3 linked regions of the Homo sapiens genome follow. The protein of the gene in region 1 interacts with the protein of each later gene in a biochemical or structural test. Each region holds a gene or a part of one and is shown in the gene's direction. Other genes may lie near its edges. The genes, in order: SORBS1, ATXN7 and FRS2.

The links.
Region 2: the proteins of SORBS1 (region 1) and ATXN7 form a complex in vitro, tested with the Homo sapiens proteins (one study listed by IntAct).
Region 3: the proteins of SORBS1 (region 1) and FRS2 form a complex in vitro, tested with the Homo sapiens proteins (one study listed by BioGRID).

Annotation. Positions count from the first base shown.
Region 1 is NC_000010.11:95,555,962-95,567,971, reverse strand, and holds the start of SORBS1 (sorbin and SH3 domain-containing protein 1), read left to right. Parts: upstream 1-6,600; 5' UTR 6,601-6,652; intron 6,653-12,010. UniProt on the Homo sapiens protein: Plays a role in tyrosine phosphorylation of CBL by linking CBL to the insulin receptor. Required for insulin-stimulated glucose transport. Involved in formation of actin stress fibers and focal adhesions.
Region 2 is NC_000003.12:63,999,867-64,008,197, forward strand, and holds the end of ATXN7 (ataxin-7), read left to right. Parts: 3' UTR 1-3,596; downstream 3,597-8,331. UniProt on the Homo sapiens protein: Acts as a component of the SAGA (aka STAGA) transcription coactivator-HAT complex. Mediates the interaction of SAGA complex with the CRX and is involved in CRX-dependent gene activation.
Region 3 is NC_000012.12:69,568,546-69,579,780, forward strand, and holds part of FRS2 (fibroblast growth factor receptor substrate 2), read left to right. Parts: intron 1-459; 5' UTR 460-485; coding exon 486-551; intron 552-1,785; coding exon 1,786-1,972; intron 1,973-2,730; coding exon 2,731-2,889; intron 2,890-3,572; coding exon 3,573-3,736; intron 3,737-5,459; coding exon 5,460-6,410; 3' UTR 6,411-11,235. UniProt on the Homo sapiens protein: Adapter protein that links activated FGR and NGF receptors to downstream signaling pathways.

The DNA of each region.
Region 1 (12,010 bases):
CTTCATTAATGTAATTACTTTAGAGTAGGAAGCCTTCTAAGGTAAACTCAGCATGTTCTAACCAATAAATCCCCTGCCCCAGTCAGAAAAAAAAACTGATCTCTCAGCAGCTGCCTTCAGATTGGCACCTTGTGTTACCCTCTCCCAAACCCCAACCTTCCATTGACACAGTAGAAGTTGACAGAAGTGTATTCTGTACTTGTAATTTCTCTCAAAGGTCCATTGAGGTCAACTTCCTTCTTTCCCCTTCCCTCTTTCCTTCCTTCCTTCCTCCCCTCCCCTCTCCTCCCTTCTTGTCCCCTCCCCTCTGCTCCCCCCTCCCCTCTCCTCTCCCCTCCCCTCTTTTCTCCTCCCCTCCCATCCCCTCCCTCCCTTCCTTCCTTCTTTTCTTCTTCTTTTTTACAGGATTTTGCTTGCCTGCCTGCCTGCCTGCCATCCTTCTTCCCTCCCTCCCTCCCTCTCTCCCTCCCTCCCTCTTTTCTTCTTTTTTTAAAGGATTTTGCTCTGTTGCCCAGGCTGGAGTGCAGCGATGTGATCATGGCTCACTGGAGGCTGGAACTTCTGGGCTCAAGGTATCCTCCTGTCTGAGCCTCCCGAGTAGCTAGGACTACAGGTACACACTACCATGCCCAGCTAATATCTATGTATTTTTTTTTTTGAGACACAGTCTCACTCTGTTGCCCAGGCTGGAGTGCAGTGGCACGATCTCGGCTTACTGCAACCTCCATTTCCTGGGTTCAAGCAATTCTCTTTCCTCAGCCTCCCGAGTAGCTGGGATTACAGGCACCTGCCACAACACCTGCATAATTTTTGTATTTTTAGTAGAGGTGGGGTTTCGCTGTGTTGGCCAGGCTGGTCTCATCTCAAACTCCTAGCCTCAAGTGATTCACCCGCCTCACCCTCCCAAAGTGCTGAGATTATAAGTGTGAGCCACCATGCCTGGCCTTGCCCAGTTAATTTTTAAAAATTTATTTGTGGAGATAGAGTCTTGCTATGTTGCCCAGGCTGGTCTCAAACTCCTGGCCTCAAGTGATCCTCCTGCCTCAGCCTCCCAAAGCACTGAGATTATAGGAATGAGCCACTGTGCCTGGTCAGGCCAACATTTTAAATGTCTTTATTTTGACTATCTAATAGCATAAAATAATCTCCAAGCCAAACCTTGGATATTTGGTCAAATACAGTACAATATTTGGGGTGCTATTATGTGTACAAGTTTTCTCCCAAGCAACAACACAAGACACACTGGAGCAAGTGTTTTTATTTTTATTACCTTTTAGATACAGCATCTTGCTCTGTTATCCAGGCTGGAGTGCAGTGGTGCAATCATAGCTCACTATAACCTCAAACTCCTAGGATCAAGTGACCTCCCAACTCAGCCTCCCAAAGCACTGGGATTACAGGCGCGCACCAGTGTGCCAGCCAGAGCCAGTGTTTATAGATTGATAAACAGAGGCCCTGTGACCAGAGTCCTGGGGTTACTCATACTCATCCTATCCCTGCTTCCCAAGCACAGCAATCCCTCCTACTCCTCTGGGTTTCTACCTGGCCCCATAGACTTCTCTTGATCAACCTCCACCATTTCACCAAACTTCCCTAAAGCATTGTCCACCAGCATTGACCTCTAAGGAATGTGGAATTCTTGGCTCGGGCGTTCCATCATCTTCAAATCAGTTCCGTGCCCTGAGGCACGCGTTTGTAGATTTACTTTTTTCTCAGTAATTAATCAGTAAGAAACAAGACAATCAGTTATTAAGGAGTTTTGCTCTTTCCACTACTTGCTTCGCTTTCTGTAAGATGCTACAGAAGGCATTAGACAAAAATCATCAAGGGGTGTTTGGTGATACAGCAGCAAAACTCTTTGATTCATAACTCTCTTTCTCTCATTTGGTTTTCTTCTTTTCTCCTGGCATTCTCCAGCACGGCATCTCTGAAAATGACTATGGTCAATATTTCGGGTAACTGGGAAAACAACTTACCAAAACCAACGTGTTCTAAGAAGTTGTCTTTCTCAACACTGCCTCCTAGTAATGTTAAAATAATATTCACTTATTGATGCTTATGTGTGTCAGGCAGTGTGTAGGCACTATCCATGCACGATCTCATCTTCAGCTTGCAAGTAAACCTATGGAGGGTTGTGTTTTCTCCAGGTTACAGATGAGAGAAGTCTGCACACTAGGCACTGGAGCTAGGATTCTGCCAGGTGTCTCTGGAGCCCGCAGCCTTAACTGTTATGCTACTGCCAGCTCCAGGGCCTCTAGTTTATTTCCCTCTCTCCCAATCTGTGTGGCTCTGAAGATGAAGTAAAGGCTGACGACTCTGGGCTGTCCTCTGAAAAATCCTGCTCCCTCCTTTCCTAATTCCTCACACTTATGACCTGCTTGGGGATGCGTCCCACAGCATGTTTATGATCCTGGTTTGTGTGCATGACTCTCCGCCTGATATTTTAAATTCTCTCCAACAGCGGAAGGACTGCTGGGAATAATCTGATACACATGAAGAGAAAACGAGGAGTTACTAATAAGATTAAATTAAACTTAAGCACATTTTAAACAGCGTGTAAAACACAGGACTAAGCACTGTTTGAGATGAGCAGACACAAGGCACGACCTCATGGAATTTACAATCTGCTGGGGAGAGGAAATGAGGGATAAGACTACACACAAATATACAGGAGTTTATGCCAAATATGGCAAGTTCCATGAGAAAGGAAGAAATGAAGCACTGTAGGGCTGGAAGGCAGGAGTCCTCCCGTTTCCCTGTGGACCCAGGTTTAAGAGAAACGGTGGAGACTGAGACTGGAGAACAGGAAGTTTTACTGTTTTACTCAAGGGTCAGTCACTGATGCACTGACAAGGCCTCAAGGTTCACCCTCCCCAGGACAAGTTACATAATTTACAGGGCTCAGTTCAAAAATTAAAGGCAGGGCCCTTTGTTCAAAAATGAAGAATTTCAAGATGGTGACAGCAGAGCATGTAATCAAGTGTGGGGCCCTCCTCAGCACAGGTTGCATCCACACAGGGCTGGCCCTGCCCAAACGAACCTCCCTGGGCCTCTGATTCCCTAGGGCTCACCTTTGGGAAGTAGGGAGCAAGTATCTCTCTCACCACCTTGTAGCCAGCACCTAGCTCAGGGCCTGCTGCCCAGATGAATCTATGAATGACTGGAGATAGGATGAACTGACACGATTACACCTGATGATTTCTTGGGTTGCTTTCAGCGTTAAAACATTGAAGGACTGGCCAGGTGTGGTGGCTCACGCCTGTAATCCCAGCACTTGGGGAGGCTGAGGGGGGCAGATCGCTTGAGTCCAGGAGTTTGAGACCAGCCTGGCAAAATGGTGAAACTCTGTCTCTACCAAAAATACACAAAATTAGCTGGCCACAGTGGCCCATGTCTGTAGTCCCAGCTACTTGGGAGGGTGAGGCAGGAGGATCCCTTGAGCCCAGAAGATCAAGGCTGCAGTGAGCCGAGATTGCGCCATTGCATTCCAGCCTGGGTGACAGGAATGAGTGAAACCCTGTTTCAAAAACAGAAACAAAAACAAAAACCCAACCCATCGAAAGACCGTGACTTTCAACATTTCTTGGAGGAGACACCTGAGATGAGTCCTGAAGGACAGTAGGATTTTTCTTTTCTTTTCTTTTTTTGAGATGGAGTCTCGCTCTGTCGCCAGGCTGGAGTGCAGTGGTGTGGTCTTGGCTCACTGCAACCTCCACCTCCTGGGTTCAAGCGATTCTCCTGCCTCAGCCTCCCGAGTAGCTGAGATTACAGGTGCGTGCCACCACGCCTGGCTAATTTTTTGTATTTTTAGTAGAGATGGGGTTTCACCATGTTGGCCAGGCTGGTCTCGAACTCCTGACCTCGTGATCCGCCTGCCTCGGCCTCCCAAAGTGCTGGGATTACTGGCGTGAGCCACTGCGCCTGGCCACCAGTAGGATTTTTCTTTCTGTTTTTTCCACTTTCCTTCTTTCTTGACTTTCCACTATTTTACCATTTCTTTCATAAATCCTAATGGCAATGTTATGCCTTACAGTGAGACATGCAACAGTGACACAGACTGGAAACAGCAGAGAGGTTCAATATTTGAGGGATGACCTGAAGCCTTAGGCCTCCCTTAAGATTCCTTGAGATAGTGTAGATGAAATCTTCATTGATAGAGTCTGGTTTTTCATCTTAAAATTATTTTATTTTCACTGGACAAGTTGGTAGATGTTTATGAAGAAAAAAATCAGAAGACTATGGATGAGCAAAAATAATTACTTGCAATCCCATAAGAATAGTTCTAATGGGATTGCAGTATAAAACTAGTTTTCTACCTATTTTTCCATTCAATAATCTGAGCATCTTTTTTTTTTTTCTTTTTTTTGAGATGGAGTCTTATTCTGTTGCCCAGGCTGTAGTGCAGTGGCACGATCTTGGCTCACTGCAACCTCCGCCTCCCAGGCTCAGGCAATTCTCCTGCCTCAGCCTCCCACAGGTGCACGCCACCATGCCCAGCTAATTTTGGATTCTTTAGTAGAGATGGGGTTTCACCATGTTTCCCAGGCTGGTCTCAAACTCCTGAGCTCAGGTGATCCACCGCTGCCCACCTTGGCCTCCTAGAGTGCTGGGATTACAGGCGTGAGCCACCACTCCCAGCCTATTATGAGCATCTTTATGTGTCAATAAACCTCTTCATTTTTTGTAGCTATTAATATATGATATTCTGTCATATGGTTGTACTATTATTAACCAATGCACTCAAATTGGATATTTGGATTGTTTTGATTTTTTTTTTTTTTGGCTATTCTAAAATGGTGTTGCCCTGAATTTGCTGGGTAAGTAACTAGTCTCTCTACCCTTTGTTATACACCTCTGTGGATAACCTCAGGATAACGACACTATTCCCACCTGGGGTCGTGTGGTGGATGTGAGTTAACGCATGTAAAGCTCTTAGCACAAGTATAGTACGGTGCATAGCAGCCTAGACGTGCTCAATAAATACTAGCTGTTTTATTACTTTATAGCCCAGAGAGAGCTGTCTTACACAGATTGTGGAGTAAATAAATAGGAGAGCCGGGGAAGTGTTCTTTGAAAAGCTGCAGGATGAGGTGCAGATAGGGGAAGGCCGTGGGCTGGGGGCTCCCTAGGTTGAGTAGTTCCCCAGTGTTTTCTCATTTATAGAGTAAGCTTCCAGATGGCTAGGACTCTTCTTTTTTTTTTTAATACACAGCAGAGGACACCAGGTGGTCACCAAAGACTTGTCACCGTTCCCTGACATCTAAGAATCTTTGCTGATGAGTTTCCGATCAGTCTGTGCAGTTATCAAGGCCAGTCTTTACCCTGCCACCCACAGCCTGTTCACTGAGAATGTGCTCTGGCTGAAGATGCTTGCAAGGGCAGCTGACAAAAATCAGTTGTGCTCAGCCCAAAGGGCGAGTGTCTTATCTTCAGGGATGTGGGAAGCTGGGCATGGAGGGAGCAAGTTCCAGACCAGTACTTGCTGGCTCTGCGACCTTGGGCCAGCAGATTCCCCACTCTGATCCCTGTCTCTGTTTCCTTTTCTGTAACTCTGAGGGGGACTAGAGGAGGTCAGGAGAATGGCATAGCACAGTGGTTAGCTCTGAACCCCATCTAACACGGTGCCTTCCCCCCACTTGCAATGACCTTGTTGCATTGTATGCACTCTACTTTTCACATTGTAGAGGATCTTATTTATTTACTTGTCTCCACTAAAATGGAAGCTTCCTAAGGGAAAAGGCCTTGCCTGTCTTGTTCTCTGCAGTTAACACTGGGGTCCAGCACTGCCACAGAGCCTCTAAATATATGTGTGTTGCATGAGTGAAATCTCAGAGCCTGGGTTCAAATCCTGGTTGCACCACTTGCTGTGTGACCTCGGACAAGCCACTTAAACTACACCTCAGTTTTCCTGCATAAAAATAGTAATTATTTTCAGTTTTCTCACTAGAAAAATATGGATTAGTAATCGTTCCTCTCTTATCAGGCTAAGAGGATCAAATGAGGAAATATCCGGGAAGCATTAAGCACACTGGCTGGTACAGAGCACACGAATGACAACAGCAAACGTTTATGTAGCACGACGGCCAGGAACTGATCAAAATGCATCACCTATGTTAACTATGTTAATCTTCACTAGATTTTACGAAGTCGGACTATTATGCCATTTTACAGATGGGTAAACTGAGGCCCAGGAGTTAAATAACTTATCACTGTTATTTTACGTCTAAGGTTCCTTCCAAGCTCCCCGTGGGCGACCCTTCCGAAGGACCAGAAGGCGCGCCAGGCCAGCGTCCGGCCCGGCCAGGACGGAAAGGGTTACTAGGCCCGCGCGCCCGTTACCGGCGGAGGCCGGCGGGCTCACAATGCCAGGAGCCGGGCGCCGGACACTTCTTCGCCTCCCATCCGCGCACACGCCCCTTCCTGTCACGGCTGGGCCCGGCCCCGCCCCCGGCACCGCCCGCTGGCCGGGCGCTGCCAGAGTGGACGGTTCCAGAGGCATGCTAATGAGGGGGCGGGCACCGCAGCCCATTGGTTGTCCGCGGAGTGTCGGTGAAGTCAGCGCTGAGTCCCAGAAAAACAGAGCGGGGCCAGCTGCAGCGTGTAGTGCGAGTGGGGCGGACGCGCGCAGCCCGCCCGCCCGGCGACCAGCAAGGTAAGCCCGCGCTCGCCCGCCCGGCCGCGCTTGCCCGCTCGGCGGCGGCAGCGCCGGGGGTGTGCGCGGCTCGGCCCCCGCGGGCGGCGCCTTTGTTCCGCGCTCGGAGGAGGCGCATTTAAAGGGCCAGCTGTTGGAGGGACTTGGGGGACCCCCTCCCCCAGAGCATCCCCCCATGGGCACAGGGAAAGCGGTGGTCCCTCGCGGCCGAACCGTCCATCCTGCCTGCTCGGCGAATCCCCAGTCTTTCAAGGAAAGTTCCCCAGGGTGCGGAGGATCTGGGGGCTTCCAGGGTTGGGGGTTTTTAAATTTCCTTTTTTGGTGGGTGTGGGGTAGTACGATCATGGCCTCTGCTAGGAGAGAATGTCCGCCCGTCTCAGGGTGGCTGCAATTTGGGTGGGTGGAGGAGACATCAAAGCCCGAATGGGTTTGTGCTGTAAAGTGAAACTACCGAGGAGGGGCACCTCTGCAGCAGCCAGAGGAAGGCGGAGGGAGCGAGCGGCGGGATGGAGGCATCTCAGGTGTGTTCATTCATCAGCATCCCCTGGAGAGGGCGGCGGGAGGGGCGCAAGGACGACGCGGTTGGCCGGACCCGCCTGAATGAACGGGGACTAGTATGCGCCGGGGACACGGCGCCTGCCCGTGCCGCCCGTGCCCCTTCTTCTCCCCGAGTGGCTGACAGCATCTTGCTAGGCAGCTCATCACCGACATGGACAGCAAGCAACTCCTTTCTCCGAATTCCCCGGGCATCCCCTGCTACCACCTCGCTGCTTTCCGATGTGGCTTCCTTGATACGTGGTAGCGCCATTCAAGATAGAGGGGAAAGAGGCTTGAAGTCATTATGTTTCCTTCATGGGGGAATGTGCTGTCGAATTCTGCATCCCCATGCATCCGCTGTCGTAAGATGGCTTTGAAATTCACCAGTGCATGCTTTCTCCAGGCAGACAAGAATTTATTACGCTATTACATTGCTACGTAAAAGCAGAAGGGATCCCACTGAGCATGGCTCGTTTTGTTCAGTCCTCGGTTTTTCCCAGCATGTTCTGGGCGAGCCTTTGGATTTTTGTTTTAAACACTGAGCGTTGGGATGCCCCTGTTGTCACAGGGCCGACCTGCTGAAATTGCTGGAATTGGTTTCATCGTCAATAGGAGGGAGGTTCATCTAGAGACATCATGGAACCTATCTGGCGTGTCAGGCCTCTGACTCCATCTCTCCCCTCAACACCCCCCCCCCCGCCCAGCCCCCCGCGCCCTTTTTTCCTCTTAAGTGGAGGCGGGGGATGGATTGGCTGTCTTCACTCTCCTTGTGTTTTGAGCTCCTCTGCTTAGATTCAATTCTGTGGTTTTGGTTGGAAAGGTATCTTGGTGGTGATCGAAGAGAGGAGGGTTGGATTAAAAGTGGGGTGGACACAGAGGGGTCAGCAGCATCAATGACAGAAGACAGATGATGGACATATCTACAGCCTTCAGACACCGATGAGGCAGATGGCTGTCTACAGAGTGAGGGGCGTGTGTTTGGGCTGTGAGGGGGAGGGGTGGAGGAGGAGGATGCCTCCAGCAGTTTTCTGCCCCGCCCTCTGGATGCTGCCTTAAATAGCCCCTTGCCAACCAAGCTCTGATGTCTCTTTCTTGGCCTGAGGGGAAAGAAGGGAAGGGTTGGTCTGTTGGCACCTTTGCCCAAGGCACTGTTGGAGCAGATGGTTAGGAAAGGGTTAGTTCTCCAGGGGTTGCAGAGAGCACATTTCTCAGCTGGAGGGCCCTGAGACCACTCCTTTGGCGACTTCCCTGCAGGGAATTAGCAACTGAAATGAACTGCTGTCTACCCTGTGGGGTAAAGAGTTGGGAGGGTATTGTCATCTTGTGGACGATACCCGCCTTGTTGGCCTTTTCCTTCTCCTACCTGCTTTCATTTGTTGTAGTTGGAGAGTTTCTGTATACTTTTCGGAAGAGATTGGGCATATTGGGGAGTGGGTAGGAGTTATGGGAAAGGATGAGCAAATTCTTCCTGGCAGAACAAAGCACTGTTCAGCTGTTCCTCTCTTTCCCCTTCTCTAAAATAAGAGTTCAATACAGATAGCAGAGTCTAGGGTTTTCTTTGTAAACAATGAAAGGGCAGGGCCAGGAAAGAAAGTTTTTATTGTGCAGCATTGATAATGATCAGGTCATCCTAACTTATCTCCAGACCCTTCCCTGGATGTGGAGATAGATTTGCTGTAGAGGGCACTCTATGGTAATTTAGGATTTGACCTGTCTCTAGGAGAAAGGCATGGATGGTCTCAAAAAGCTTTGGTGGAGAAGCTCTGGACCAGAGGCAGGACAGCTAGCTTTGGTCCTGGCCACCAATCTTTGGGCTTTGGGCTAGTGGCTTCTGCTCTCTGGGCCTGTGTCCTTGCTGGTGAAGTGGAGGATGATAGGGCAGAAGGTCTTCCAGGGTTCCTGACAACTCCACTGTTCTTAGAGTCACAGTTTGTGATGGCATTTTCAGGTTCTTTCCTGTTTGCTAAATTGATAATAAATTCAAAGTATTGCACAATGGCATAGAAGAAGCATTCTAGGATGCAGGCTTCTGTTGGATTCACATCTACCTTTTCCTTGATTAGTGTGATTTGTGAGGTTTTACTGTAAGTATGTAAACAATTCAGAGCTAGAACGGTCCAGAGTGAGAGGCACAGACCCCAGAGTGAGTGGTTGTGGGAGATGAGGGTGGGATGATAGATTGCTGAGGAAAGGGAGTTTCTGTAATTTGTTCTCTTTCCCTGTGGATGTTTAACTTGCTGGTTTATTCATGGTTACACAGGTGAACGTTTACCTATCTAGAAGATGAGAGTTATAAAAGACCTCTGTGATTGCCATGTTCCTCCCCCTTCCCCGCCAAACTGAGGAATTTGAGGGGTTGGGAGGTTTGGCCATTTTTCCAAGGTTGCACAGCTAGCAAGATGTGGAGCTGGGGTGGGAACTCGGGGGGATAGATTGTAGATCTTGTTTCCAGATGTATCTGGGTTTTTTTGTTTTTTGGTGGTGGTGGTTGTTTTGAGACAGGGTCTCACCTGTCACCCAGGCTGGAGTGCAGTGGCACAATCATGGCTCACTGCAGCCTCGACCTCCTGGGCCCAGGCAGTCCTCCTACCTCAGCCTCCCGAGTAGCTGGGACCACAGGCACGCACTACCACACCCAGCTAATTTTTGTACTTTTTGTAGAGACAGAGTTTTGCGGTGTTGCCCAGGCTGGTCTCAAACTCCTGGACTCAAGCGATCCGCCTGCATTGGCCTTCCAGCATGCTGGGGTTATAGGCTTGAGCCACGGTGCCCGGCCTATATGTATCTGTTAAGCCCCCTCTTCCTCTGAGAGAAATGATTCTAAGATGGAATAGCGAAACATGAGGAGGAAATAGGAGCACAAGAAGAGAGAGATTGGAGAAACAGACGAGAAAGTAGGAGGCTGGGGACAGATTATGTGGGGAAGGGAAAAACACAGAAACCAAGCTTGGAGGAGAAAAGGATGGAGCTTGAAAGGGGGAGGCTCTATTGTCTCTGAAACAGCTGAGCTCTTCTGCAGCCCTTGGGGTGAAGTGAGGGGAGGTTTGGTAGCCTAGGATGGGGGGTGGGGGGGTGGACTGAGAGTTCAACCTCAGCCTGAGACTGTCTTGGAATCTCCTTGGGATTGCTCCTGTTGACCCTCAGATTGCAAAGTGTCATGGAGGCTGCTTAGTTTCAGGACCAACTGAGGCCTTTAGATCCACGGGAGCATGCAGAATGTGGACATGTGGGAAGTCAGGTGTGCGGGTGGTGATGCTGGCTGATGCTGAGGTGGGACTCAGTTCTGCTGAAGTCCCGGTTTTTTTGTAAATGCAAAACTCAGAACACTTTTCCATGGATTTCGTTTCAGTGCAAGCAGCATTTTCTCCTTGGATTTTCATCGGTGCTTTGAATGTTTTATGAGATAGTGTTTCGAATACTCCCTTTTCAGAGGAGATACTTGGAGATGAATGATTTACTGAATTGTAGCTCATTTGGGGGAGCTTCTGGCTTGTGACCTAAGCTAAGCCTCAGAATGTTTCAATGAGCAATTAAAGAGCTGTGAACAGTGGTTGACCAGAGCACTAACCATTCAAAGGCAAGGATAAAAGGTGATAATAGTTCAAGGTCTGGAGCTACAGCCAACAGCTGGCCATGAACAATGTAACTGACTTTGGCTAACTCTTCAAGCCCTAGAAAGTGTCTCTGTGGGTCCTTTGGTGGCTCCCCCTTTTTGTGTGCGGTTAGGCATGTGGACCCGTCCCTGAATCTTGCTGTCTCCCATTCTTCTTTTGCTACATCTCCCTCCACTATCCATTTCTTTTTCTTACCTCTTTCTCCTTGCCCTCCTCCCTCATTCTTTCTTTATTATCAACAATATATCTTTGTAGTTTCTTTTAATCTATTGCCATTAAAATTTCATGTTCTCTGTTCTTCATTTCAAATCAGTCGAGGGCCAGGCAAGGTAGCTCATGCCTGTTATCCGAGCACTTTGGGAGGCTGAAGCAGGTGGATCACCTGACGTCAGGAGTTCAAGACCAGCCTGGTCAACATGGTGAAACCCCGTCTCTACTAAAAATACAAAAATTTAGCCGGGTGTGGTGGCAGGCACCTGTAGTCCCAGCTACTCGGGAAGCTGAGGCAGGAGAATGGCATGAACCTGGGAGGCGGAGCTTGCAGTGAGCCAAGATCGCGCCACTGCACCCCAGCCTGGGCGACATAGCAAGACTCCGTCTCAAAAAAAAAAAAAAAAAAAAAAGACAAAAATTAGCTGGGTGTGGTGATGGGTGCCTGTAATCCCAGCTACTCAGGAGGCTGAGGCAGAAAGAATTGCTTGAGCCTGGGAGGTGGAGGTTGCAGTGAGCCGAGATTGTACCACTGCACTCCAGCCTGGGGGACAGAGTGAGACTCCATCCAAATAAATAAATAAATAAAATCAGTTGAATTCAGTCTTTTTTGAATGTGTATGTGTTTTACACACAAAACAAAAAAGAGGCAAATGAACCAAATCCAACTAAATTGCTTTTTACTTCTGTGTGGCCTTCCATTGATTTATCCCCCCACTTCTTCTGTGGTCAGCAGTGGCTTTTTATAGAAAAAAAAGTTCCCAGGTCTCTGTCATGCGGTTATTGTTTTCACAACAATAGAAAAAAGTTTCCACCCTTGTATTGTGGACCACAAGGGACACCCTCTCTCAAGGGATGTACCCTGTTTCTAGACTTCCTTCCATGGAAAAAGTGTCTTTAATGCATTCTGTAACAGAGGCCTGTACTGTAAGGGGTTAGGGGTGCTGATAGTGGAGGTGGGGCTCTTCTCAGTGACTGCGGTACTGCTTAGAATAGG
Region 2 (8,331 bases), on another chromosome or scaffold:
TCCTTTTACTACCATTTTTTTTTAACACTGTCATCTGTAGGTCACTCTCCAGCAGTTAGGCACCTTAACTGGAGACCAGAAACCTTCCAGAGAACACAGGGCTGCATCCCGAGCAACCCTCTGAAGAAGGGAATTAGGCTTTAGATTTTGATAGCAATGTTCCAGGAATGAAATATAGATGTTAGCCCAAGACACCATGACAAAATAGCCCAGCCTTTTGAGAGTAATTTGGGAAAAGAAGCTGTCAGAAGTTTCTAACTTACAAACTGGTTTGAAATTTTTGATGCCCAGACAGCAAGTATAAATCATTTTGGAGGCTTACTTTTCATGATACAAAAGCAATTCTGTGTGATTTTTTTTTTTAAGAAGAAAGAAAATGCAAGCTAGTTTTGAGAAAGGAAGGCCAAATTGGGTCGGGGGAGGGTGGGAGTGAGGAAGTTAAAATCACTATAGGGAGAAAAAACTTTTTTCAAGATTTCCAAAGAGATGAAATTTTCTTAATCCTTTTAAGTTTTCATAGTAAACAGTATGGCAGATTGGGTTGGTTGTCCTACCTGGTCTATTTTTAAAAGTCACCTTTTAAAGTGACATTATTAGATACACTTAAATGTTTCCAAGGCACTCTCTACATTACCCTTGTTTTTCTCTTTGGATACTGTCCTGGGACTAAGTGTAGATTTCTGCTTCAAGCACTTCTGGCATTGTGTGTTTTTGTATGCACTCCCCTTCATGCCACTTCAGATGTTTATTTGGATGTGGTTGGGGACGAGAGCAGACACCAAGGAAAGGGAGTTGGAGAGAATGTAAGTCCTGACCTGAAGGTCTTTTGTGATGCATGTATAGGATTGCCCTGACACACACCCTCCTTTCTTGGGATTATACCAGCCATCTTCCTGAGAGTTTTGGAGCCCTCTAGGATATTTTTTCTAGTACCCCACCCCCCACCCCTAAAGAAAGACCTTAATATGTTAAAACAGCATTGCTTGGAGAAGGTGTCATTGAATTCCGGGACGAGCCGGAGCCTTTAAATGGGTGCTTCCACCACTACAGGCTCCTGACACGAGTAACAGGCACTGTTGCTTAGAAGAACACACGAAGTTGCCGAACACAGGGTAAAATTTCCAAGGCGCTGATCGTTGCCCTGGCCAGGGCCTGATGAGAGCCAGTCAGTACATTCTTTTTTTCCTACAGTTCTTGGGTTTCAAACTTCAGTTTCAGGGAATTTCAAGTCAACAACAGGTAGAATGAATAAACTTGGTTACCAGCCTAATAATGTGAATTGCTACAGAATTATTCTTATTATGTAAGAAAACAAAAACTTTATGCAGATACTTTAGCTATAAATTGATGTAAAATACTGATTTTTTTAAAGGAAGGAGAGAACAGTATCTTGTTCAATTATTATGCAATCAATCAGTAAATGTTTTTAAAATGATACTACAGGAGAGCTTAGTAAGGAGAGGGCATGGATGGGCCAGTTTGGCATAGTTGGGAGAAATCAGTCTGGTTTCCATCCCAGTCGGGGAAGAGAGAGGTGAGAGGGAATCAGAACGTACCTAGTTGATTCCTTGGTGACAAGTGCAATGGGGTATGGGTAGAATTTATTTTCAGAGCCAAGAGGACTTGATGGTTATAAATAAAGTTGCCTTTAGCAATGGAATTTACAGATCGATCATGTTGTTCCGAAAGATGTGAATAGGATCCACAATAACAAGTTGATTCAGACTAATGTAGATATTTAGATTAGCAAGTATTGAACATTTGATTTCTTAGACTGAGGTTTTAAATGAATTTCATTATTTCTCCCGGTAATACACAGAGCATCGGGATTAGGAAATTAGCCATTTTGGATTCTGTCTGCCACAAACAGACCTATTCTAAACAGTGCTATTAAATTTTAGACTGTTGTTCAAATATTTTATTTTCTCCTAAACTACTTTTTATGGTGATGAATAATTAAGACCATTTAAAACACGGGAGTACAAGTATTTTTTTGAATTAAATTAACTTGCAAAAACCAAATTTGCAGTGGTTGGGTTGTTTCTAGACAGACTTTGGTATCAATTTAAAACCAAGATAATTTTTATATTCTTTCCAATAGAATTTCATGACAACTCCTGCAGTTTTCTTAACCTACAAAAAAAAAAAAAAAGTGCTGCAATGATGAACAAAGAATTATACAAAACCTACTTTTGTATCTTTATTTTGGAATTTCTTGTTCTATTATAAATATGGAAGTATCCCTATTTCAGAAGACATATTTTGTTAAAAATGAATTGTACATATTTAAATATGTATTTTTGCACAGGTCTTTTTTTCTGATATCCTGTTTTGGTACAATTGAGATCATCTAGTATTTATTTATTAATTAATAAAAGTAAATACCTTTTTATAATTTGAAGTGGTTCACTGCCAAGCCAATAGTTCTAGAACCTGCCTCCTTTACAGTTTTAAGGGATGCCTCTGTTCTGTGAAAAGTCTTTGTCCCTTTTAGTGTCTCGGGAGTGGATTCATACAGATGAAGTGGGCATTGCTTCTTCCTGGTTGCCTGGTTTCCCGATAGACTACATGTAACTAAGTGACACACTGCTTTTCTTTTGTTAGTATTTTATGTGTGGGAGTATGTGACTGCGTGTGTGTGTGCCTGTGCGTGTGTGTGTATACTCAGCACATGTATGTTACTATGTGATGTGGTTTAAAACTAATGGAAAAAACTGAAAGTGCCTGAAACTAGTTTTAAGCTTAGACAGAATCTCTTTAAAAAGACTTGAATGTTCAGTTGAACTTTTGGAGTTTGCTTTTTCCACCTAAATATTGTTTCTAAAATTTTAGGGGCGGAGTTGAAAACCACCAATGCTGGTAATTTTATAAGGTATTTTAAAATTAAGACCTCTTGGTTCATAGTAATTCAATTGGTGATGGATTGCCTGGTGGCACCAAGGGTTACAGATCTTTTTGTCAGCCAGCAACTTACACGATGTGTCCGTTTTGTTATTCACTCATGAAATACAATTTAAAATATTTAAAATATTTTGTATTCCAAAAATATAATACAAAGAAGTACCTCTGAGAACATTGAAAAAAATGTATAATTTGAAAAATGTAACTTATAAGGGCAGCTGTCTTCCTGCAAGAGTTCTGTTGCCAAGGAATTTCTTAATGTCGCTCATTCTGTCCAGGGGGTTTGGGGCGATTGGGCTTTGAAAAAATATTCTTAAAAGTTTGTTTAGCAGAAAATAATCACTTTTACATTTTGTGCAAAACATTTTACATTTTCAGATAATTTAAATGAGCACTACATACTGTCAGTGTGAATGTAGGGCCTTGAAAGCATTTTGCTTTTTTTTTTTTTTTTTTTTTTTTGAGCTTGGTTATAAAAGCAATCTCCTGTGTTAAAAACGTGTGAATAGTTTGATAATTTGTACACATAATCAAGAGCATCTCAGCTGGACTTTGTGTTGGCTGCTGTATAGAACATGAACAAATGTCAAGGGATAGAAAATTACTTTGGATATTTAAAAGAGAAGAAATATATAGTCTATTTGTTTTGTAACAAGTTTCTGTAAATAAAATAATTTATACTATTTATAAGAAAAGGTTGTGCTTTGCTTTATAAGAAATTAGCTTGTGGAACAAACATGTTACTAAACGGGCAATAAAATTAGGACTTCTCAATAAATAAGGTTGGCTGCATGAAATATTGTACGTTTCTGCCTCGTTGTGATACTAAACCCTTTCAGTCTACTCTGACTTTTCATCACTTTTGGCATGGAACACCCTTGTGAAGCCCCTTCAATTTAGCCTTCCTCTTATATAAGCTAAATACTTCTAAGGCCTGGGGATGTTTCCATCTGGGGGCACAAAGCTTTGCTTTGGATAAATTAGTAACTGTGTAAACAGTGAACATTACTGTATTCTGGCCTTGCATGTTTGTGAAAGAAACGAGGGAGTTGATGGATTGAGAAACACATTCTATTTGTACTTAGGTGCAAATTTGATGACATGTAGTTTTGGTTTAAGATAAGCTTTTTATCCAGACCCGGTCTAATCTCTTCCTTTCTTTTACATACCTCCCTTACTGGCAATACAAGTGCATTTTAGTATTATTTGGAACACAGCATAATCATTTACCTCTAGAAATCCAGACATTTTTACTGTTTGCAAATAAACCATTCTGATAAATTATTTTTGTTGCTTAAAATAAGAGGAGGAACCGCTGTGTGTTAGCAAGAATGTCCATACCTGATATGAAAGAGTCATGTTGGCTTCAGTTCCTACTGCCCTGTGGACTTCCCATTCCCTCCTTACTTGAGTCAACCATCCACTCAGTACTTTCCACAAATCTAATAATGAGGTGCTCTCTGTAGGTAAATCCTTTCACTATGGCTTGTCCTCAAACCTCCCAAGAAAAGGTTCAACTGCTCAATCTCTTAACCTTTTTAATTCCATTCCCTTGCAGGTATCCCGGCCCTGCATAACAAGATGATCCCAACTCAAGGAAAGGGGTTTAGCAGTGTTGGATCTTGGCGTATGTGGGATTTAACCAGGCAGAAAGGCAGACAAGAGTAAGATTCTAGGCAGAGAGAGCAAATGCGTCGAGCATGGGTATGAACATGTGAGGGATAGAGAATAATTCTGCAGGAAGTTTGCTGGATGGAAGGGCCTTATAGGGTTAGAAAAGCTGGTGTCAGATTGTCAAGGACTTTGAATGTCATGGGGCTTCTCTTCCAGGAACACATGGGATCAGGCTTAGATTAACCCAAATGTAATTGTCAGAGCCCAGAGATATTTCATGGTCCAGTCCTAGCACTGTGCAGCTGCCAAAAGTCAAAGCCATTCAAATCTGTACTGAAAACTGTGGAAAAGCAAAGGAGCACTTAAGTCTCTTTCCCCATGTCTTGCATTCTCACTCTCTTTTGCTTCAAAGATCTGTCTTTACCTGCCCCTGTCCCCAGTCCTAACAAAAAGCACTCCCCTAAATCAACTCTTAAGTTCCTCTCCCTTCTCACTCCTTTCTTAGTCTCCTCTTTCTGTAAGAAGTTCTTGCTCCTGTTGTTAATGGAAGTTAATTAAAGTAGTATTTCACCTTGTAAGGCTGTAATTCTTGGCACTTGTTATCCTCATTTTCTACATCCAAAGACCATGGACCAGAATATCTCTTAGGAGGTAAGGGAGAGTGAGGCTATCAGCCAAAGAAAAAGTCTCCAGGGGGAAGGGGAGAATCACTTATAATTTAATACTTTGTGGAAAAAACATCTCTGCCACCTATGGCCCTCCAATAACAATGGAAGACAGAATCAACAGGTGAGAACCTTGGGACAAAAATAAGTTACAAAGCTGTTGTAATCCAGGTAAGAGCTATTAAGTTTCCAAACGAAGGCTGACTGTGAGGATAAGTGATACTGATTTCAGAAATCTTTAAAAAGTAGAACCAACAAGCCTTGAGGTCTAACTCTGTTCAACATTAAAGGGAAGAGTGAGTCTAAGAAGACTTCAGGTTTCTAGCTTGGCCAAACCAATTGAGCTTTAAGTGAAATGTGCGATATGGTAACAGAGAAGGAAAAAGACATAACGATAGATTTGAGCTGCTGGTGGGAAATTCTGGTTTAGTGCCCAGCTGGCTGTACAGGCTGGTTGGACTTTAGGAGGGAGGTTTGAGCTGGAAAATAAAGATGGAGAGTTGTCTTTCAGTTTTAGATCATCAGTGAGGTCATAAGGGTAGATGGAGTTTACCTGGGAAAATTAAGTAGCTATTCGATTTGGCTTATTATTATGTTAAAATAATACTTCTCTAGTGAAGTACTTAATATGCCAGATACTGTGCCAAGCATTTTATATACATCCTCTCTTTTACTAAGCCCTCATAGGGCAGGTATTTTGATTCCAATCATACTGATTGGAACTCCTAAGAAGGTATCTTGCTTAAGGTCCCACAACGAATAGGTGGCAGATCCAGGGTAATTCAGGTCTGTCAGAACAGTGATTCTTAATTTTTTCCCTCCTCAGACTCCAGGAGTCACATGAAGTTATGCATCCTGTCTGACCGAGGCACAGGCACACCACATTTTTATATTCCGCTTCCAGGATATCACAAACCTGAAGCCCATCCTCCATGGCCCAGAGAGAAAACCCAGGACAAAACCTTGGAGAAGACTATTTTCATGAAGACAAATGGAGAAGGAGCAGTAGAGTAAAAAGAGAGGTAAGGGAAGGCATTGAGATGGTTTACAGGGTTAGATGTTTTGAGTCAATCCCATTATAATTACCAATGCTATCTACCTATTTAGTTAACGTTTTATTGCCCTGCTGTTTTCTCCAGGATAATTGGAACAGCATGTATTGGTTGGGTGGAAAAGATAGAACTTGAGCAGGGAGATTGCCAAAGAGTGAAGATGTGGCTGAGTGATTGATGATGGTCTGAACTGGGTATTCAGGGAAGAGAACTAGAAGCCAACCATGTAGAATCTATGCAGGTGCTCTTAAGACATTGGTTTGACTGGAATTATCTTCTTGTTAGGTCTTAGGAATCTCCTTCCAGGTAACTTTTTCTATGATTAGACAATTGATTTGTTCAGGGTCACAGAGCAAAGTCCACATTTAATTCCACATGGCCAATAAAAGTGAGGGGCTACAAGGTGAGATCCAGGGGCCAGAGTTATCAAAGTGATACAGCACTTTTAGGAATAGGACAGGGAATGGAGGAATTGGAATTCCAGTATTACTTTCAAAAGCAGAACTGGCCAGAGGAATTGGAATTCCAGTATTATTTTCAAAAGCAGAACTGGCCAGAGGTGCTTGTGATTCCTGGGTGGAAACCATGGCAGTGGACAGAAGCAGCATGGAGGAAAAGAGCACTGGAATTCAGGCTGAGGAACTGTGAAGCCAAGGGTGTTGTATAGGTTGTCCATTTCAAATTAGGGTTGCTTGGTTCTGGGATGATTTGCATGGAAGAGGGGAGAGTGACTTGGAGATGTGTGATTGAGGACAGTGAGCACAGTGAGTTGATGGTGTTGCTGGGTTATAAGCAGCTTCAAAGAGAAGGCATTTTGAATGAAGGTGGAAACATAATGGCCAGGAGAACAAGCAAAGGACTAGGAAACAGTGAACTTCATCTTGGCCTCAAGTTCCTGAGGTGCATATGAATAAACAGTCTCTAACCCAGAGGGTTTCAAGAAAAGCAGAGTCCTCAAAATCCAAAGGTAGAGTTTCCCCACATTGATATTATACTAATTACACGTATAACAGTACTTTGGAAAAGCACAGGTCTCTGGTCACCTCTAAAAGGCAAGGTTGGTAAGGAGGTCAGGGTGTCACCTGTTGGTAGTCTTAACTAAATGGTCTCTTCAAGGGATCTAAGGATGGAAAGGGGATATATAATGGTTGGATTAAAGGCTCATCATTGATTAGCAAATTGTCCCTTTTGTTTCTTAAACCCAATTTGTACAGGGAAAGTTATGCCACTGTAAGATATTTTTAAATGGGGAAAAAAAAAAAAAAAAAAAAAAGGTTATACCCTTTGACCATGTATGTCAAGGTTAAAATGGCCTGGATCAGATTGCTACAAATTCCTGATAGCCTTTGTATTCCTTCAGAAACACAAGCATAATGCAAATCTGTGGCTCTACAGCTTTGAAACCAAAACTAGTGATTATCAGAGCTTTTCATGTTATCCAGATGGGGATTTTACCCCACTCCCCCATTGCCATTGTGGAGGCACAGGTTTGTTACCAGCAACTACAAGTTTATGTAGCATTGGGAAGGTCAGGGATTATCATAGTTCCCTCCACGCTTTTTCCCCCATAATCATGGGGGCAGATATTTCAGCTGTCAGCTGTTCATCTTAAAAACATTAGGTTAACAGCAGCACCAAGGACTAATTCAGAATATGAAATTACAGAAATGATTTGCTAATGATTTAGTAGCCTTTTATCAGTTAATGTTTGGTCAGGTTATAAAAGACCAAATGTGTTCAGTCACAAAATCCTAAGTGTATTGAGTATTGCATGCTTAGTGATCAAGTTGTAGGCATCCTTCTAGCCATCTGGGGCAGGTAAAAGTTGGGTGCTTAACAAAAGTGGTTTTTACACTGTTTCTGTCCTAAGAGACACTGTTTTTTAATAGCTTAAAAATTGACCTAAAGCTGTTATTTCTAATACAGGAAATAGATTACCATAATTTGACATAGCTTTAAAATATTTAGCTCTTACTCGATAGATTTGCTATAAAATCAACTTTTACTGAGGTAAGAGAAACTGGCATTTCTGCTTTAAAAATAATCACAAAAGATAGTTTATCCTGGCGATATCATTTCACACTAGGATAGTTACTTTT
Region 3 (11,235 bases), on another chromosome or scaffold:
TCTCTGGCTGTCTCTCTCTCTCTCTCTCTGTCTCTCTCTCTCTGTCCCTCTCTGTCTCTCTCTCTCTCTTTAAAGAAGGACATGAAATTCCTGATAAGCCACAAAGGGTTAATTTCATTATTAACTCTTGAACAAAAATTAATTATTTAGGTAATATTATATATGAGACCTTAAGTTGGTTTTTTTTTTAGATGATTTTAGAATAGGTGACCTTTGCAAATTTAACTAGAAATTTGAGATTTGTTTGACATTATTAATGCCTCACAAAATTTATTCTCATTATTACTGAGTAAAATCAACTAGCTAGTTGTATAAAATCTAGCTGCAGCCATATACCTTGTTGGACTTAATTTTCTGCATCAGAATAATGTTTGTGTTAGATGATTTCTAAAGTCTTTTTCTGTTTACAGTTTTTGTATCCTTCATCTAATAAATTTTTCCAAATTATTTTTCATGTAGTGCACACATGGTCTTCTGAAGAAGCCATGGGTAGCTGTTGTAGCTGTCCAGATAAAGACACTGTCCCAGATAACCATCGGAACAAGTTTAAGGTCAGTAAAACTGGTTGAGTTATATATCTTACTGCCTAGTTGGGTGTTCTTCTTTTATTTCACTTAACATATCTTATTTCTGGCTTTTATCACCAAACCTTTCTATTTCCCTTTCTTTCCACCCTGTCTTTCTTGATTTAATAAATGATGACAACATTTTCTTACAGTATGGAATTTTTTTTAGTTTTCCTTCGGTCCTCTGTATCTAATTAGCCATACCGTTCTGGTAATACTGTTTTTAAAATGCCATTTTACGGGGTGCCTTTTCAATCTCATCACTATCTGTCTTTCAGTTATTATTTTCATGTGTGCCTGTGTGATTTCTTAACTGGACTCTACCTCAAGTCACCCTCTGATTCATCCTGTAGTCACCATCAAATTAATCTTCTTCTCTCATCATTCACTAACCTCTTTGCTAAAATTGTGTGGTGTTATTTTACCTGTAGGCTAAATGCTGCTATAGCTGTTTTGTGTCTGATAATTTGACCTCGATCTGTTACAAAGAATAGCCTTGATCACACAAACCTAGGTGTAAGTCTGTCACTTTATAAGCTTTGTGACCTTGGGCAGGTTACGTTATTACTGAGTCTTAATTCCATTTTTGTACAGTGTAGTCTAGGATTGTTATGAGGGTTAAATACATGTAAAGCTCTTTTCCTACTCCCAGGGGAATAGTAACTTCTCCCTAAATGTTACCTACTGCTCTTAGTCTTTGGATGTTTTCTGAAGCTCAGCAGTACAAAGCCTTTCCTCATATGAACTCTGTGCCAATCTATTTTGGTGTCTTTGAAAGGTACTTTTTTTGTTCTGCTTTAACATTGTGTCTTTATGATGTCCCTTTATCTCCTGACCCACTAGATTTCCCCTCTGATTTTATTTTCTGCGTAAATTTATTTATACTAGCGGTCCAGCTAAAGGCCCTCCTCCTCTTAAATGAAGGTGTCTCAACAACCTTAGACCACACTTCCTGCCTTCTGCAGCCTCTGTTGCATTCCTTTGTCAATTAATCATACACTTTTGTGGTATTGACTTTGTGTTTCTACATTTTGTTTCCCCAGTGGGAATGTAAATTTCTTACAGATCTGAACTGGGTGTTACACGGCTACGTAGTCCATGCCTGATACACACATTGGTTGATGAATGAACTAACAAATTACAAATAACTAATTAGCAACAATGCATTTTCCTGACGAATTGGTGACATATTTGCATGACTGTCACCTTCTTTTTTTAGGTCATTAATGTGGATGATGATGGGAATGAGTTAGGTTCTGGCATAATGGAACTTACAGACACAGAACTGATTTTATACACCCGCAAACGTGACTCAGTAAAATGGCACTACCTCTGCCTGCGACGCTATGGCTATGACTCGAATCTCTTTTCTTTTGAAAGTGGTCGAAGGTGTCAAACTGGACAAGGTAGAACCTTTGTTTTTTTTCCCAAATATTGTATTTGAAATTGTTTTTTCAGCTATTCTGTATACAAAGATTAAATTAATATTTTTCTTCTGAAAAAAATCCCAAAATAAACAGATTGTTAAGGAAAGATATAGTATACTGTGTATTAATTTATCAACTGTTTATTAAGCACATTGTCTATGTGAGAAATTTTGGCTCATGTCAACTTTAAGATTTTTCAGTAAATGATTGGGTCAGCTAAATTGACTAAGTGTCTTTATCATTGATTTTTTTACTACCTACTACTTGAATGGCCTTGACAAGTTACAGGACTTCCATTGAATGTTAAATTTCTTCTCTATAAAAGGGAAATGGTAATACCTATCTTTTAATTATTGTAATAATTAAACAAGATAACAATTGGAAAACACCTAGGGACTTTCCAAGGGGCCTGTTACATGGCAAATGATCACCTTGGAATAGTGAGTTGGGCTCCCCCTGCTGTTAAGAAACAGACTAGCGTAAGTGCGCAGGTCTTGATTTCATTAGCTTTATTTTGGGCCATCTCCCTTAGATGAATGAAAATTATTCTGTGAACTTTTGGCGGGGGTTTGTTTTGAAACAGAGAATAATCATTAATTTATCAGATATTTATTTAAAAGGGATTTCTGACTCGGTGCGTAGAATGCTTACTTTACAATTCTGCTGTTTGTCAAGTGTTCCTATAGTTTTTTTTAAAGGTATGTTAACTATTTTTCCCTTTTGGTTTATATTTGTAGGAATCTTTGCCTTTAAGTGTGCCCGTGCAGAAGAATTATTTAACATGTTGCAAGAGATTATGCAAAATAATAGTATAAATGTGGTGGAAGAGCCAGTTGTAGAAAGAAATAATCATCAGACAGAATTGGAAGTCCCTAGAACACCTCGAACACCTACAAGTAAGTACCCCTTTTCCCTTTCACATTTTGAATAACAGACGTTTAGTTGTAAGCTATAGATTGTGGGTATTTAATCAATAACACACTAGAAATCACCACTGGATAACAGAAGTATAATGGTTGTCAGTTTTTAAAAACAGCTGTAGGCCGGGCGCAGTGGCTCACGCCTGTAATCCCAGCACTTTGGGAGGCTGAGGCGGGCAGATCACTAGGTCAGGAGATCGAGACCATCTTGGCTAACACTGTGAACCTCCATCTCTACTAAAAAAATACAAAAAAATTAGCCGGGCGTGGTGGTGGGCACCTGTAATCCCAGCTACTCGGGAGGCTGAGGCAGGAGAATAGCATGAACCCGGGAGGTGGAGCTTGCAGTGAACTGAGATCATGCCACTGCATTCCAGCCTGGGCGACATAGCAAGACTCCGTCTCAAAAACAAAACAAAACAAAACAGAACAAAAAAACACAGCCGTAGTTCTAAGTACTTCAAATATTTAAAAAATGAAAACATTCAGTATTTCATATTAGGTAAAATATGGAGTTGGGGGTAATACTATTTGTGCTCTGATTTCTGCTGTCTTGGCAGAAAGACCTCCTATAATCCTCAGTACAGATTCGATTCTTACTCATTTTTATTCTCTCTGCCCCGCCCCCCTTTTCCTTAAACCAATAAACAAAAACTCAGCTCCAGGATTTGCTGCTCAGAACTTACCTAATGGATATCCCCGATATCCCTCATTTGGAGATGCTTCATCCCATCCGTCAAGCAGACATCCTTCTGTGGGAAGTGCTCGCCTGCCTTCAGTAGGGGAAGAATCTACACATCCTTTGCTTGTGGCTGAGGAACAAGTAAGCATGTGCTACTGTGTAACAGCAATAATGATTGTTCAGAGTTAGGGTATCACTGTGCTAATACTGGAAGATTTTATTCAGCTTGAAGTTTAACTTTATCTGTTTGTAAATTACTTTTGTAGTGAACAATCAGAGGAGATAGCATATATTTGCTGGTTTATGCTCAAATATATGCGGGTATTCAGGGGAACTTACCATTACAGTAGCTTGTGGGTTCACAGAAGAGGTACATCTATAGATTAAGAAAGGCATAACTAATGGTCAGTTCCCATTATAAGAATGTCCAATGGATTAAGAGTTTATGCTGCTTTTCATATTTTAGCCATTATAGTCAGTGAACTACGAGTAGGAAGGTAGATTTTGCTGTTAATGTTATGGAGTTATTTAGTGTTCCCGAGTATGCTAGTTTTCATGTGTGGAATGAAGTATCTGGTTGGAACCTCTGTATTAATTAGTTATACTTATGTTTTGTAAACCATATGTCACATTAAAAAGTTTTTAGTGTTTTTAAAATCAGTTTCTTTGTGTTCTTTACATAATGAGTTGTTATATTATTTACTGTAATTACATGAGTCTTGGTCTGTCGCCCAGGCTGGAGTGCAGTGGCATGATCTCAGCTCACTGCAACCTCCACCTCCCGGGTTCAAGCAGCTCTCCTGCCTCAGCCTCCCAGGTAGCTGGGATTACAGGCGCAGGCCACCACATCCAGCTAATTGTTTCATATTTTTAGTAGAGACCGGGTTTCACCATGTTGGCCAGGCTGGTTTTGAACTCCTGACCTCAAGTGATCTGCCTGCCCCGGCCTCCCAAAGTGTTGGGATTACAGGCGTGAGCCACTGTGCCCGACCCTTGTAAATATTTTTATATTATCTCCCCAAAATACTATTAAGCTTTTCTAAATAGTGATAATTTCTTACTTGGTGGCATTTATTTTATATATATGCATTTTACAGAACTCTTATTAAATCTAGTGGAGTTAATCTTCTTATACATTCAGATCATCAGTAAATAAGGATAAACTTATCTCTTTTCAAAGTCGTTATTTATTTCTGGATCATGTTTTAATGCTTTGAGAACCTCTAAAACAGCAGCAAAATGATAATCCCTATTTTGTTCCTGATTTTTATTTTTTACATAATATTTATCATGTTTAACAATCAAATATAATGTTGCATGTTATTTTATTTTATTTTTTGAGATGGAGCCTCACTCTGTTGCCCAGGCTGATAATGTAATGGTGTAATCTCGGCTCACTGCAACCTCTGCCTCCCGGGTTCAAATGATTCATGTGCCTCAGCCTCCAGAGTAGCTAGGATTACAGGCGCTCACCACCATGCCCAGCTAATTTTTGTATTTTTAGTAGGGACGGGGTTTCACCATGTTGGCCAGGATGGTCTCGAACTCCTACCCTCAAGTGATCCACCCGCTTCAGTGTCCCAGAGTGCTGGGATTACAGGCATGGGCCACTGCGCCCAGCCTGCGTGTTATTTTGAAGTCGTTATTCTTTTATCAAATTAGGAAGACATTTCTACATTTCTCCTTCTCTTTCCACCTTTTTATTAATAAAAAAACAGGTGCAAAAGTTTTGAAGTAAGAGTACATTTGGAGAGAAAGTTAATACAGTTAACTGTTGTCAATAAAATTAACTGATGTGGTCAGGCTTTTTTTCAGTTTTGTTTTTTTAAGTAAGTTAACTAATTCACTTTCTGTTTTGTTTTAGGTACATACCTATGTCAACACTACAGGTGTGCAAGAAGAGCGGAAAAACCGCACAAGTGTGCATGTTCCATTGGAGGCGAGGGTTTCTAACGCTGAAAGCAGCACACCAAAAGAAGAACCAAGTAGTATTGAGGACAGGGATCCTCAGATTCTTCTTGAACCTGAAGGAGTCAAATTTGTTTTAGGGCCAACCCCTGTTCAAAAGCAGTTAATGGAAAAAGAGAAACTGGAGCAACTTGGAAGAGATCAAGTTAGTGGAAGTGGAGCAAATAACACAGAATGGGACACTGGCTATGACAGTGATGAACGAAGAGATGCACCCTCTGTTAACAAACTGGTGTATGAAAATATAAATGGGCTATCTATCCCTAGTGCCTCAGGGGTCAGGAGAGGTCGTCTGACATCCACCAGTACCTCAGATACCCAGAATATCAACAACTCAGCTCAGAGAAGAACTGCATTATTAAACTATGAAAATCTACCATCTTTGCCTCCTGTTTGGGAAGCCCGCAAGCTAAGTAGGGATGAAGATGACAATTTAGGACCAAAGACCCCATCTCTAAATGGCTACCATAATAATCTAGATCCAATGCATAACTATGTAAATACAGAGAATGTAACAGTGCCAGCAAGTGCTCACAAAATAGAATATTCAAGGCGTCGGGACTGTACACCAACAGTCTTTAACTTTGATATCAGACGCCCAAGTTTAGAACACAGGCAGCTTAATTACATACAGGTTGACTTGGAAGGTGGCAGTGACTCTGACAACCCTCAGACTCCAAAAACGCCTACAACTCCCCTTCCACAAACCCCTACCAGGCGCACAGAGCTGTATGCCGTGATAGACATCGAGAGAACTGCTGCTATGTCAAATTTGCAGAAAGCACTGCCACGAGATGATGGTACATCTAGGAAAACTAGACACAATAGTACTGATCTGCCCATGTGAGCCTGGAAAGCATTGTGTTGTTTGCACCTTTGTGAAGTTTTTAAAAATGAAGATGCAAGTGCTTCATTTTCATTTCTAAACACTAACTCCTTTTATAGACTGATAAAATTTTTTTCTGAATATTTCATGTGCATCTTTAACTAAAGGGAATTAATGTAGAGCAGGTACTCCTTAAAGAACACTAATTTCATTATATACTACTCGTTGTACAGCAGCATTCCCGTTTTCACAGTGCCTATTTAAAATGAGAGTTGAAGTAAATGACATGCTGGTTGATTTTTATCAATATTCTGGACTTAACGCATACCTTTCATGTCTAAGTCATGGTTGGCTTTTAAAACTTTTTATAAAGCCTCTTGACAATGTACATTGCTAACAGGTAACTATAGGCTTTGAAAGTAATGCTCGTAGATTCAGTGTTCACAGTATGTGGCCTCCAGCATGTAACATGAGGAATCCTTTATTTCATTAATTAATGGCTTTTTGACTTGAGCCAAAACATATGTAAAGGAAACAGAAGTACCGCACCTCCTCTTACACCAGTCAGCTCCTTTGCCTTCAGTGTTACTAGAAAGCGGCCTGTGTCCATGAGTGTGCTTTGCTGTTGGTGCACTGAAAGGCAGGAAGGAGACAAGATTTTCTATTTACTCATCTCATGATGTCATTTGAAGGGCATGTCCAGATATCTTAAAATTATAATAGGCTCAAGAATCAGTCTCAGGTCACTTTACCCAAAAACATTTGAAAATCTGAACCACAATCTCCTGAAAGTTTTTCTCCTATAGATTGTTGACAACACATTGTTTTCTGGAGGCATTTGTGCCATTAGGTTTCCATTTATCTTCAGTTTTTTTCTTTGGTGTTTGGGATGTCTTATTTTGTTGCCTTATGTCCTTTTCAATTTAAAATGTTTGAGTTTGTATATAGTTTTGAAATTGGATTATGTGTTCATTGTTGTTTAGTTTGCATTTTTGTCAAATTATGGTTTTGAAGGTTCATTTGGAACTTACTGTTAGTCTGTAACAGGGTTGCCCTTGTCCAGTATTTATTTATAAGCTGTTTACTTTTCAAGTTGATAAAAACATTCTCCAATTCTAAATTTGCTTGTGTCCATAGGTGATCTCTTTAGCAAACTGAGAAAAAAAGGAAGCTACTTTTAACATGCAAAGTTCCCTCAAGGTGTACCGTGTTGTCTCTGTGGGCACTCTTCCCCAGCACTTTAGCAGTAATTCCCCCAGCTACACGCTGCAGTTGTACTCTGCCCACTCTAGTGTTCCTCAGCTCTGCTGTCCTTTTACTTGTAGCTGGATCTTTGATTATCCTTCGATTTCCATGAAATATTAATATTGTTGCCAGCATAGCAGGTACAGTGGAAGTCTTGTAGCAGTGAGATTGTATCATAATTTAGGATTTAAAATGAATTAAAGTTTATATAAACTGAAGAGTCTCCATATGTCAAACTCTTGGAAAATCAAAGATGTTCCAATTTCCTAAACACTAGAGAATACGAGAGAAGGTAGAGTGGAAAAGGTTAGGTAACCTTGCAAAATATTTTACTATTTTCTCTAAATATGAGGAAGTTTGAGATTATGATCTGGATCTACCAGATATAACTAAGGTTAATTTAGCATGAAAAAGTTTTAGTCATATTGGCATCCAACCTATTCAGTAACCGAATCATAGGACAATGATGGATTAGGAGAACAATAGAGTGGGATCATTATAAAGAAAATAAATTATTAAAGGTGTCTTTATCGTTTTAGTGCCATTTTTAGTGTCTTTACTATAAATCAATATCAGTGTATTTTATCATTCTATGTGCATAGCAGAATTTTCTTTTCTCCCTTTTGTTCCCCTGTGAACTTGGTGCTTATTAAAGTGCTCACTGTTCTCTTAAAAGAGAGCAGTGGTATAGGTGTGCAGTTTCCATGATGCAGGTTCCATTTTTAATATATTGTTCCACTTATCCTTTCTTCTGAGTAAATTGCTAATTGTGCCAAATTTATGTAATAGTTTTTGTAATGTGGAATAAGAATTATGATGGAACCATTGCACATTTTTTTCTGAAACAGCCAGTCAAGGCAGAACATTAATCTCCAAATGCAAGGGCTGATCTATTTATTCATTTTGGAGGTTGGGTACTTTATTCTTTCTTTCCGTCATCCTTTTCATTGTTTCCCCCGGATTCTAATTAGTTTTTATTTTTTTTAGATAACTCCAATATAATCATTACAGTTTATGCTTTAAATACTATGTGCTTTAAAAAGGAAAATGGGACCAATTTGTCTGCTAAGAATTTGATTTTAGGTACTATAAGAGTATTAGGAAAATATATACAACTGGTGTTAATTTCTAGATATTTTCTAGAAATCACTTGTGTTCCTATTTAATAAAAGGTAATTTAGAATACTACTTGTCCTTTGCAGTAGTTTAGTAATGGGCATTAAGCTGTGTCCTCGAAGGATGTACCTATTACTAGGTGCATTTTAGAATGAAATATTGATATTTTATTAGCATATAATTGTGGCCATATATCTCAGATTTTCTGAGGCAGATCTAATTTTAGATAATTCTGTTGGTAGACCATGTGATCCTTCTTTTTGGTTTTGGAAATATAATCATTGTTAATGTTTTCCCTCCAAATAGAATACTGTTTTATCCATACAAATCATAACAGCATCTATCCCATGCTAGGGTTGGAAACTGATATTGGTATTACTTGTGTTTTTTCTTAGTGTGTTTTATTTCCCAGTTTCATCTTCTTCTAAAAATGAAAATATGGTGCCTTCCCTCCCTCCAGGAAGACTGGCAAATATTTCCTTTTATTTACTGCTGCTGTGGAGTGATGAGATATGCACTTTACTCTTTAAGATTCAGCAAAAAGCTTTTCACTTCTCAGTATATCCAGAATACATCATATCTGGGACTTAGGAAAATTTGCCAAGCAATCTTTGTTTTTATAGATACTAATGTTGACCCTCTCCAGCGTTCAATGTTATAAATAGAACAAGTCAAGCTAGTGTTTATCTCCTCCCCCTCCCCAAAACTGTGGCACAGCATATAAAAATGTACCTCAATAATGTTCTATTAAAAATGGGACAGGGGCCTTATGTTTTCATAATTTCCCAACAATGTGCCGCCATATTTTTGCCTCAAGGTAAAGGTTTTAACAGATGAAAAAGTACTTCCCAATTCCCCCGTGCTATTCCTAACCTATAATGCCCAAATGTTTTGTGCAATGTGTAGTGTGTGTGTATAAATACATATATTCTTGAAATAGACATACCATCAGAGACATCATTCACAAGTAACTGATGTATTGGCATCTCATTCATATTTCTGATGTGTGAGGTATATGGTACTAATTACCTTTTCCTTGATGTTTGCCAAATTTGAATAAAGGCATTGGTACGAAATTACAGAATGTAAAGAAAATGTTTTTGGCTTGAAAAATTAACATATTTTATGACGTACCACAGTATACTCTGCCCAAACCAGCACCCTATCTATCTTTCCTGTTCTTTACATCCCTGTTCCCCATCCCTACTTCCTCATTTTTGGTATAACACAGTTCTTTTGTAGCATCATTATAATTGCAGTTCTATGGCAATTGGACAGTTATAGCATGGAAACAGACTGGTATAAGTAGTACAGTAGTCACCAGTGTGCCACATTTGCATTAGTAATGCAAAATATACATTTTATAAAGGACAAACTTTGTGTTATGTTTTATTTTCATTACATTGTATAATATTGTAAGACTATTGTATGTCCTAATTTGCATTATAAATGTTTTTTTCCTACGTAAAGGCATAAATATAGCAACTTTGTATAAAGGTAGCTTATTAGATTTTTAATTTTTTCTTTTATAAAAAATTGTCCAACAGTGGGACTACCATTGCCAAATTGTATATGAAATATGAATTTTACCCCCATGGTTAATTTCTTTTATAAACATTCCATATTTCTCTAATAAAAAGACATAAGTGATACTGTACTATGCATACATTGTATCTTAATGCTGTTTCAGATCAGCATTTTAAATTTTGGTTTGCATTTTTAATATTGGCAAAACGTAACCACTGTTAATTAAAATAAAACCTTGTTGTATATGTAACAACATAATTTTCCCTCTATCCCTTCCCACCCTTTGTTCTCTATTTCTCCCTATCAGTGCCAACTTCATACATTTTGTAGCATGGCAATAAAATATAACTTTTACACTGAGGCCGAGTGTGGCTTTTTGGAGGAAGTGGGGATGGGACGATTGCCCTCTAGTTGTCCTTTGCATATGACTGTTTTTTGCCATATAAGCCATGTCATCAGGCATGAAAAGTTTTCTCATATATGATGTAAACTTGCTTTTAAGGACAAGTGTGAATGTGCTTTTTAAGCTTAATTTTTGTCATGACAACTAATTTTTTTTATCTTTGGAGAAGTCAGAGTTCTTTACAATCAAACGTTTATTAACTGGAGTACTTAGAATAAGCTAGTAATTGAATTTAGTTCAAGGGCTAAGCAACACATTTTTAAATCCTTATTTATTGTAGAGTATTAGTATACTGTCCTACAAATTATGTAAAATATGGTTTAATATTAGATGACTTTGGATTTTGCAATGCCTTACTGTTGTCATTCTAGCATAAATATCCATAATGAGGTACTCAAGTTGATACTGGAAGCTGAGCTGATCATACACTGACCTGAAGCATTCATGAAAAGCTGCTTTATTGAATAAAGTCTGATTGGAGTTCTTTTCATGCTCACTTTCCCCTTATTGCTGAAAGTAGATTGCAATAAAACCCCAATAAAACGTTTGGTCGGA